Homo sapiens: one gene and its partner. The protein of the gene in region 2 purifies or fractionates together with the protein of the main gene of each other region. This does not show direct contact. Each region holds a gene or a part of one and is shown on either strand. Other genes may lie near its edges.

Region 1 (3,821 bases), on a different chromosome or scaffold from region 2:
GATCCAAACAATTAAACATTAGCTATCAAAACTAAATATCAATAATTCTACAACTACTGAAATACAGCCCCAGTTCAGAACTTAGGCAGGCATAATATATGTACTGGGCTTAAAAGAAAAAGGCATCACCCACATAATAGTACCATAAATATAAGTGAAAATTAACTGTGCAATCTAATTTAACCTTTGTGTGGACAGAAATCATCCTGTACTATGGTTATTTTCATATGAACTAGAAAATGCTCACTTAAATATCCTTTTAAAAACAACAAACTGATGCTTATTAGTGATAATTATGAAGAACAAAAATATATAAATAGTTTATAGGACAATTTATTACCATGGCAAAAATATGCTGATTTAAGTTATATTCATACCTGTTGATCAGATATTTAATCACATGACAATCAGCTTTATTTTTTGGCTCTCCAAATCCAAGCAGATAGTATGGGATTTTAGTTGAAGATGTAAAACATGAAGCCAGACTAACTCCTTCAACATTACCAAACACCTATCCTTGGGTAAATGATCTTGCTTTAAATTTCTAACCATGTGAAATAAGGGTAAAATTGCCTCTTCTACCTAAAAGAGAATGTAAATACTATACACCAAGAGGTACCTCTGTTGCTGTACATTGCCTGTAAATGCTTCAAACACAGGGTCTCAAATGTGATAATCATTGAGCTGCCTGGAATATCATACCAACTTGGTAGAAGAGTCAATACTTTTACAGGTTTCATTTAAAAGACTTTACTTAAATTTTCTGTTTTAAGAAGGTATGACTTATTTACACCTCCCCACCAATAGTCATTTTTAGAATATGCATGTTTTTTTTTAAAAAAAAAAGCTTTTTGAAGCTTGATAATTTACAAAAGCTGAATATTGAGAATGACTTTGAAAGACCTGTATGTTTCATGACTGTAGAGTCAACTAAAGATCAAAATGTGAAAGGTATTCATCCTCGTAACTTAAGAAATAGGGATACTTAAAAGCAAAACGGTGTCTCAACATTTACTAGAATACAGGTGAAACTATAGTATTAAAAGTTATTCCTTACAAAATAATCCTTTCAAAATATAAAATGATAAACGCCATCACAAAATAGTTTAATAGCTTCTTCCAAATCTTCAGTGTTGCAAAGATCCAAAAGGCACATGGAGCTCATGGGTTAAGCATTGTTAATCTTGACGTAGGTTTGGTGGGGCTCTCTGGGTCCATATGAAACAGAAGCCAATAATAAGTTTCTTAGGGGGATTCGTCTGCTGAACACCTATAAAATTTTTAAAAAATTTAAACCAATGTACAACTATGCATGTTTATATTTCTCCTTTGTATGAACTCTGCAATGAAGAAACTGATTCCACAAAAGGGATACATTGTTTCTATTGAATCTTATCATGTAGATGTTAAAATATAAACAAGTTAAAAAATCCCTTCTGCATCTGATTTCACAACTTCCGATTGATTTGTTTTCAAATGGGGGGTTTTCATTAAAATATAAGGGATTTTAAGAGGGGGTTAGGTTTGCGAGTACAAGTGAGCCTTATCAGATAGAAAGATCTTTGAGAGTGTGTGATTTCACAGGTCACAGAGTTTGTTCCATCTCGATCCCAGTGGCATCACAAACACAAAGAAATATAAAGATGCACTGAGAAGAGATATAGCAGGGTCAAGGCTAAAATCAGTATCACCTTATAGCTTGCTTGAGCTAAGGAGTGTATATGTGTGCATGCATACAAAAGTCTTGTTGAAAATTTTTTAAAAAATTAAATGTAAGAACTTTTTTGAATGCGAACAAAATCAAATGAATATTTCAAGAGACAACATAGAAACTGAAGTTGAACATAAGAGCCCTTTTTTGGTCTGGATTGAGTCCCTCTACCTTTTCCTTAACTTTTCATATGGAGATCAAACGTAGGAACTTTAGCACTGGAAACTATGCAACTAGTGGTGTTTTGTTAAATTCTGAGGGTAGTGGCAAGAAAGAAAGCATTCCACAATTATATTAATAAGAGCTCAAATGAGAATATGCTCAGTGACCTTTTGTCTATAATCCTACTAGTGGAGAAAGAAAAACAGGTCATTTCATGCAGTGGAAAACTACCTTGTCATGCCTAAAGATAATCATTCTAAAAGCTAATGTTTAAGATAGACAACAGACAAAAACTATTTTTAAGTATACAACTATGTATTGAAAGGTGACTTTGTTAGGAATAATTGGAATGGTTGAATCAAAGGAATTACATTGCATCATAAATTAACATACAACAGAAAATGCAAAATAATTTTTAAAATGACATTTCCAACTTACTTTTGAAATTTTTCAATTAGTTTCTTCACCATTTTATCTGTGATGCCGGGACAGGCGGCTTCAGCCACAGCAATACTTTTCTCGAGTTCTTCAATCGCCTGATTCCTGCTAGCGTTATTCTCGTCCTGCTGTTTAAGCTGAGAAAGAATAATAGTTAAAACATTTAAAATATTATACTACTTAACACAGATATCCAAGGCTAATTAATCTGTACTTACTTCAGCAAATGCAGGTGTGATTATCATAGACAAACAACTCAGGGTTTGCACAAGATCTTGCTCCTTTGAACAAATAATATAGATTATACACATGAAATTAAAATAAGTGTCATGATTTTCTTATTCTTTAACAAATACGAACTAATTTGAATCCCCTACTGAAAACAAAAGATTGTATGCAAGGCAAGTCTCTAAGCTTTCTTCCTATCATTCATTCTCATTCATCATCCAGAAGTCCTCTAACTTCTGGGATTACAATAGATACCTATGATTCCCTGGGCTTATGTATCTCCAGGTGAAATGCACTTAAAAAATACCAATATGGCCACTTAAATAACTTCTATTAACTTTTCTTAATTAGCTCAAAACTAATGACAAATGAAGCATACTACAAACACAGTGAGGCAGACAGGCATTTAGGGGTATTCAATCCTAACAATTTTAGGCCATTATCATCTCACTACATGGTTTGAAAAACTGTATGAAGAGTAAGTAATTGTCTCCATATACATACTGCCCCATTCTGTACTTTCTTTGGATCAGGCTTCTTTCGTACGGTGGTAAAGCTCCATTCAGGATGAGTATTGTTTTCCCTGCTGGTAGATTCCCTAAAGAGATTGCCAAAGATACCTCTATAAGTGCCCAAATGATTCAGCTTGGCAAAAATACCAAATCAATGCAGGTAGAATCTAAAGGGATAATTGTCCCAATGTTTAAAAACTCATGATGCAAAAAAGCATCTGATCTCAGCTTCAGGCGAATACTACATTTTACTACAGAGTAGTAGTGGAGTGGTTCTCAACTCTGTGTGTGCTTCATTGAGACCTCCTACCATAGATAAATACCTGTCCCTCACTACTCCCCACCTATTGAATCAGGATCTCCAGTGGTGTGGCTTGTGATTGCTTTAAGGTTCCATGAGTGACTCTTATGGGAAGCTAAGGCTAACACCCATTAGAATAGGGCACAAATTATTCTGATATTTTTTATCCCTTTCCAACATTGGACAATTTCTCATAAATGGAAGAATCTCAGAGTAGTATCTAAAGAAATTTGGTGTTGCCTTTGTGCCAGTTCAGCTGGTGGAGGACTAAATTCTGGCATAGCATACAGACTTTCCTAGTCTAAATTAATTGACAGACTTAGAGGCTGAATTTTTAATGTAAACGCTGCTGTTATAAAACCCTACAACTTTTTCAAGAAATAAAAATCATGCATAAATGAATATTTAAATGTATCAGTCTGATCTTGGTTTGGTACATGGCCAAGAGGTGGGAAAAGCCTGGAGGTCA
Region 2 (3,821 bases):
CACTTCATGCTTGAGGACCAAACCCCTTGTCCTTCCAACTCTTCCTGGGAGGACTCATGGAATGTAGAAGAGTCCCTCGGACCAGCCGTGCATCTCTTGCCACCCTCTTTCCTTACCGTGCTCCACCCTTCTTCAAGTCTAATTCTCAGCACTTAGGACAGCACCTGGTACAGAGCAGGCAGTCAATAAATGTGGAATGAATGAATGATTTAATGGCTATGGATTAAAAACGAGAGCACTATCAGTGAACCTGTTGTGTGTCTGCAACCAATCAAGACATTTCCAGTTTGTGCCAGCCGTGTCGCCCAGGTGTTATGAGGGTGGGCTCAGGAGACAGAAAACCCTGCTACTGTGGGACTTTGGGCCTCAGTCACTTGGCCTGTAGATGGGGATAATAATATTCCTACTATATAGTGTTGCTGGGGGTCATATGAGCAAACATTCATAATAAACATAGACCAGGGGTGTCTTAACCACCCCATTTGGATACAGCATATTAAAACACACCCCCCAAAAAGAAAAAGATGGAGGTCTAGTATCCAAGAAAGATATAATCTAGTTGCCAGAACCTATGCATACAAACAAGAGTATTAACAATGTCAAGTAGGACTTGTTTCTGGAATAAGGGCTACATGGTATATTTCTATCAACTGTGACACCAATTGAAAGATAGAAAACCCCAAGTACAACAACAGTCCCGTAGACAGAAAAATCGCTTTTGCTATGGAACTGTGTACACATGTGTAACATTGTACCTTTCAGAATACTCTTAAACTACCCCATTTCTAAAGCCCAGGATTTTATTCCCAGCCTCTACTCCTCCTTTACTTTCCTTTTCTGCTGATAATTCATAGATGAGCTGGATAAATAGGACAGGCGAGAAGAAGCACGTGCACCTCCTCCCCTCCCTCAACACCTCTCCTCACCCCTCTCCTTCCTCAACACCTCTCCTCTCCCCTCCCCTCCCTCAACACCTCTCCTCTCCCCTCTCCTTCCTCAACACCTCTCCTCTCCCCTCCCCTCCCTCAACATTTCTCCTCTCCCCTCCCCTCCCTCAATACCTCTCCTCTACCCTCCCCTCCCTCAACACCTCTCCTCTCCCCTCCCCTCCCTCAATACCTCTCCTCTACCCTCCCCTCCCTCAACACCTCTCCTCTCCCCTCCCCTCCCTCAACACCTCTCCTCTCCCCTCCCCTCCCTCAACACCTCTCCTCTCCCCTCCTCTCCCTCAACACCTCTGATCTCCCCTCCTCTCCCTCAACACCTCTCCTCTCCCCTCCCCTCCCTCAATACCTCTCCTCTCCCCTCCCCTCCCTCAATACCTCTCCTCTCCCCTCCCCTCCCTCAATACCTCTCCTCCACCCTCCCCTCTCCTCTCCCCTCCTCTCCCCTCCCCTCCTGACCCTCCCCCTCCACAATTCGCTCTGAAATCCTGACCCTTTTCATGCCTGCAATACTTTGTTTATCCTGGACTCTTTAAAAGCAAACCAACCAACAAACAACAACAACTAGTCAGGAGGATAGGTAGTAAAAAAAAAAAAAAAAACAAGTCAAAGAAAAGGAGAAAAGAGCTTAGAACTGTTTGAGAAACAAGGAAGGCAGACTGGATTGTAATAATGTAACTGAAGCAATCATAAAACATTACTCATTGAAACATCTCAGGTCAACTTTATGATGGTGAATTCAAGAGGTGTACAGGGGAAGGCGAAAGAAAGGAGGAAAGAAAAGAGGGAGGAAAGGCGAAGGAGGGCAAGAAGGCGAGGAAAAGCAGGCAGGCACATCCAGAGTGACACCTTGCACTCCCAGCTCCTCGGAGGCTGACCAAGATTGACCCTGGGGCACCCTCCATCCCCGCCTTCTGCTGCTATAGCCAAGACCACAGGAGCAGCCTGCACCGAATGAAGTGAGTGCTGAGATTTAACAGCCGTACTCGAAAACTGCCCCTTCCCTGCTTCTGAAGGAAATATACATCATTTGCGGCTTTTAGGCTCCCCTCCTTCCCCAGGAAAACCACAGGATCTATACTGTTCTTCCAAGCTGCACAATTACAAAGGATGTTGTGGTGGTTTTCCTCTTTCAGAATCAGGTTTCCAGTTTGGGTCCTCCCCGGCTTGCCTCCCATTAGGGCACACCACATGGGTTTCCTATAGACCTGGTCCCATACCTGAGGGTCATGCTTCCGCGCCTCTCCGGAGCTTGGCGGGGACAGCCTCTTCCTGGTTAGAGGTTCTGTCCTCTCTCACCTCGCCCTGAGTTTTCCTTCCCCAGCAACATTCCTTCTCTAGATCAGACGGACAGGCTCTAATGTCCAAGGTTGTGTGACTGCTGACGAAAAGGGTGGGGACTAATGTACTCACACCCAACCCCTGCATGCCTGTGTCTACAATTATTCTTCCTTATATGATGTGTCATATCAAATTTAATTCATTTCTTTTTTCATATGTCACTCCCACTTCTACATCTTGCATTTAGCAAGGACTTCTCCTAAGCCCAGGGGCAACAAGGAAATGCTCCGGGTCTAGCATGTGACACACAGCAATGAAAAAAATATGCTCTTTTGACGTAAGATTGGGTTCAAAATGAGCAGTCTATCAGCTGTCTTCCTTGCCTCCCTTTTGGCAACAGCTAGCTTAAAGGTAAGAATTCAGTTGTTGGGTACCCTTTATTACTGAGCAAAATCAAAATTTGCTTCCTCTTTGGAGCATAAAAAAGCAACAGGCAACAAAGGGAAAATCCTTCACAACCACTTCTTAGTTTACACAGGGGAAAAACAAACACCATTAGGATGGCTGTGTCCACCCAATGCTGCTGCCGCCTGCTTCTGCAGCCCTGTGTTGGGGGCTGACTCTGTTTTGTGTTTAAACAAGGCCAGGCTATCACGAGGTCAGGAGATCGAGACCATCCTGGCTAATACGGTGAAACCCCGTCTCCACTAAAAATAAAAAAAAATTAGCTGGGCGTGGTGGTGGGCGCCTGTAGTCCCAGCTACTCGGGAGGCTGAGGCAGGAGAATGGCGTGAACCTGGGAGGCGGAGCTTGCAGTGAGCCGAGATCGCACCACTGCACTCCAGCCTGGGCGACAGAGCGAGATTCCGTCTCAAAAAAAAAAAAACAAAAACAAAAACAAACAAACAATAAAAAAAGAAGGCCATGCTAATGCCATGTCAGTCATTGGTGAAGCCTCCTTGCTGGGAGGGTAGCAATGGAGGTAGGGGAAGGGCGAAGTCCAGGGAAGCCCAGGAGTTCTCCAGCCAGGCAGAGAAATTAACTGAGTATTCATTAGGAAGTCAAGGGCATATAGGAAAAGACTCAACCCATCTGGAAGCTGCCTTTAAATAGTGATAGCTTTGAAGAATGACAGGGACATTTTAAAAGGACACAGGAATCCACTTGTAGAAGTTTTACTGGCCAAATGTGGAACAACTGGAATATTAAAATAATTACTAATCTACAGCATTTGTAGCCAATTGAATAAAACAAGGACTTATGAGTCCACACTAAGATACATAAAGGGAAAGGGAACACTCTACCTTACAAGTAGGAAACCAGCTAACAAACATACGAGAAATACTGGAACTAGAAAAATCATTTGATAGCCATCATAATAATAGAAAAACCATTTGATAGCCATCATAATAATAATTGATGTCAGTAAGAAGTATCAATGGATGGTAGGACTAGTGGGTGAAATTTTGAGGAGGACAGGATATTTAGTCTTAAAGTAGCTCCCCCCCATATGATTAAGGACAAAATATTATCCTTACGTTGGAGAAACCCGGCATACAGCGCCTTAACCAAGTAATCAAAGGTAATAGTGCCATA

What was found.
Region 1: the proteins of PGCKA1 (region 2) and STK26 purify together in Homo sapiens (affinity purification with mass spectrometry; 3 studies listed by BioGRID and IntAct, with this or other methods). This does not show direct contact.

The regions. Positions count from the first base shown.
Region 1 is NC_000023.11:132,071,584-132,075,404, reverse strand, and holds part of STK26 (serine/threonine-protein kinase 26), read right to left. Parts: intron 3,138-3,821; coding exon 3,044-3,137; intron 2,593-3,043; coding exon 2,530-2,592; intron 2,449-2,529; coding exon 2,312-2,448; intron 1,271-2,311; coding exon 1,246-1,270; 3' UTR 1-1,245. UniProt on the Homo sapiens protein: Serine/threonine-protein kinase that acts as a mediator of cell growth. Modulates apoptosis. In association with STK24 negatively regulates Golgi reorientation in polarized cell migration upon RHO activation.
Region 2 is NC_000004.12:37,582,732-37,586,552, reverse strand, and holds part of PGCKA1 (PDCD10 and GCKIII kinases-associated protein 1), read right to left. Parts: intron 2,321-3,821; exon of another isoform or gene 2,165-2,320; intron 250-2,164; exon of another isoform or gene 1-249. UniProt on the Homo sapiens protein: Acts as a tumor suppressor. Acts as a tumor suppressor for colorectal cancer cell proliferation by targeting KEAP1/USP17/ELK1/CDK6 axis.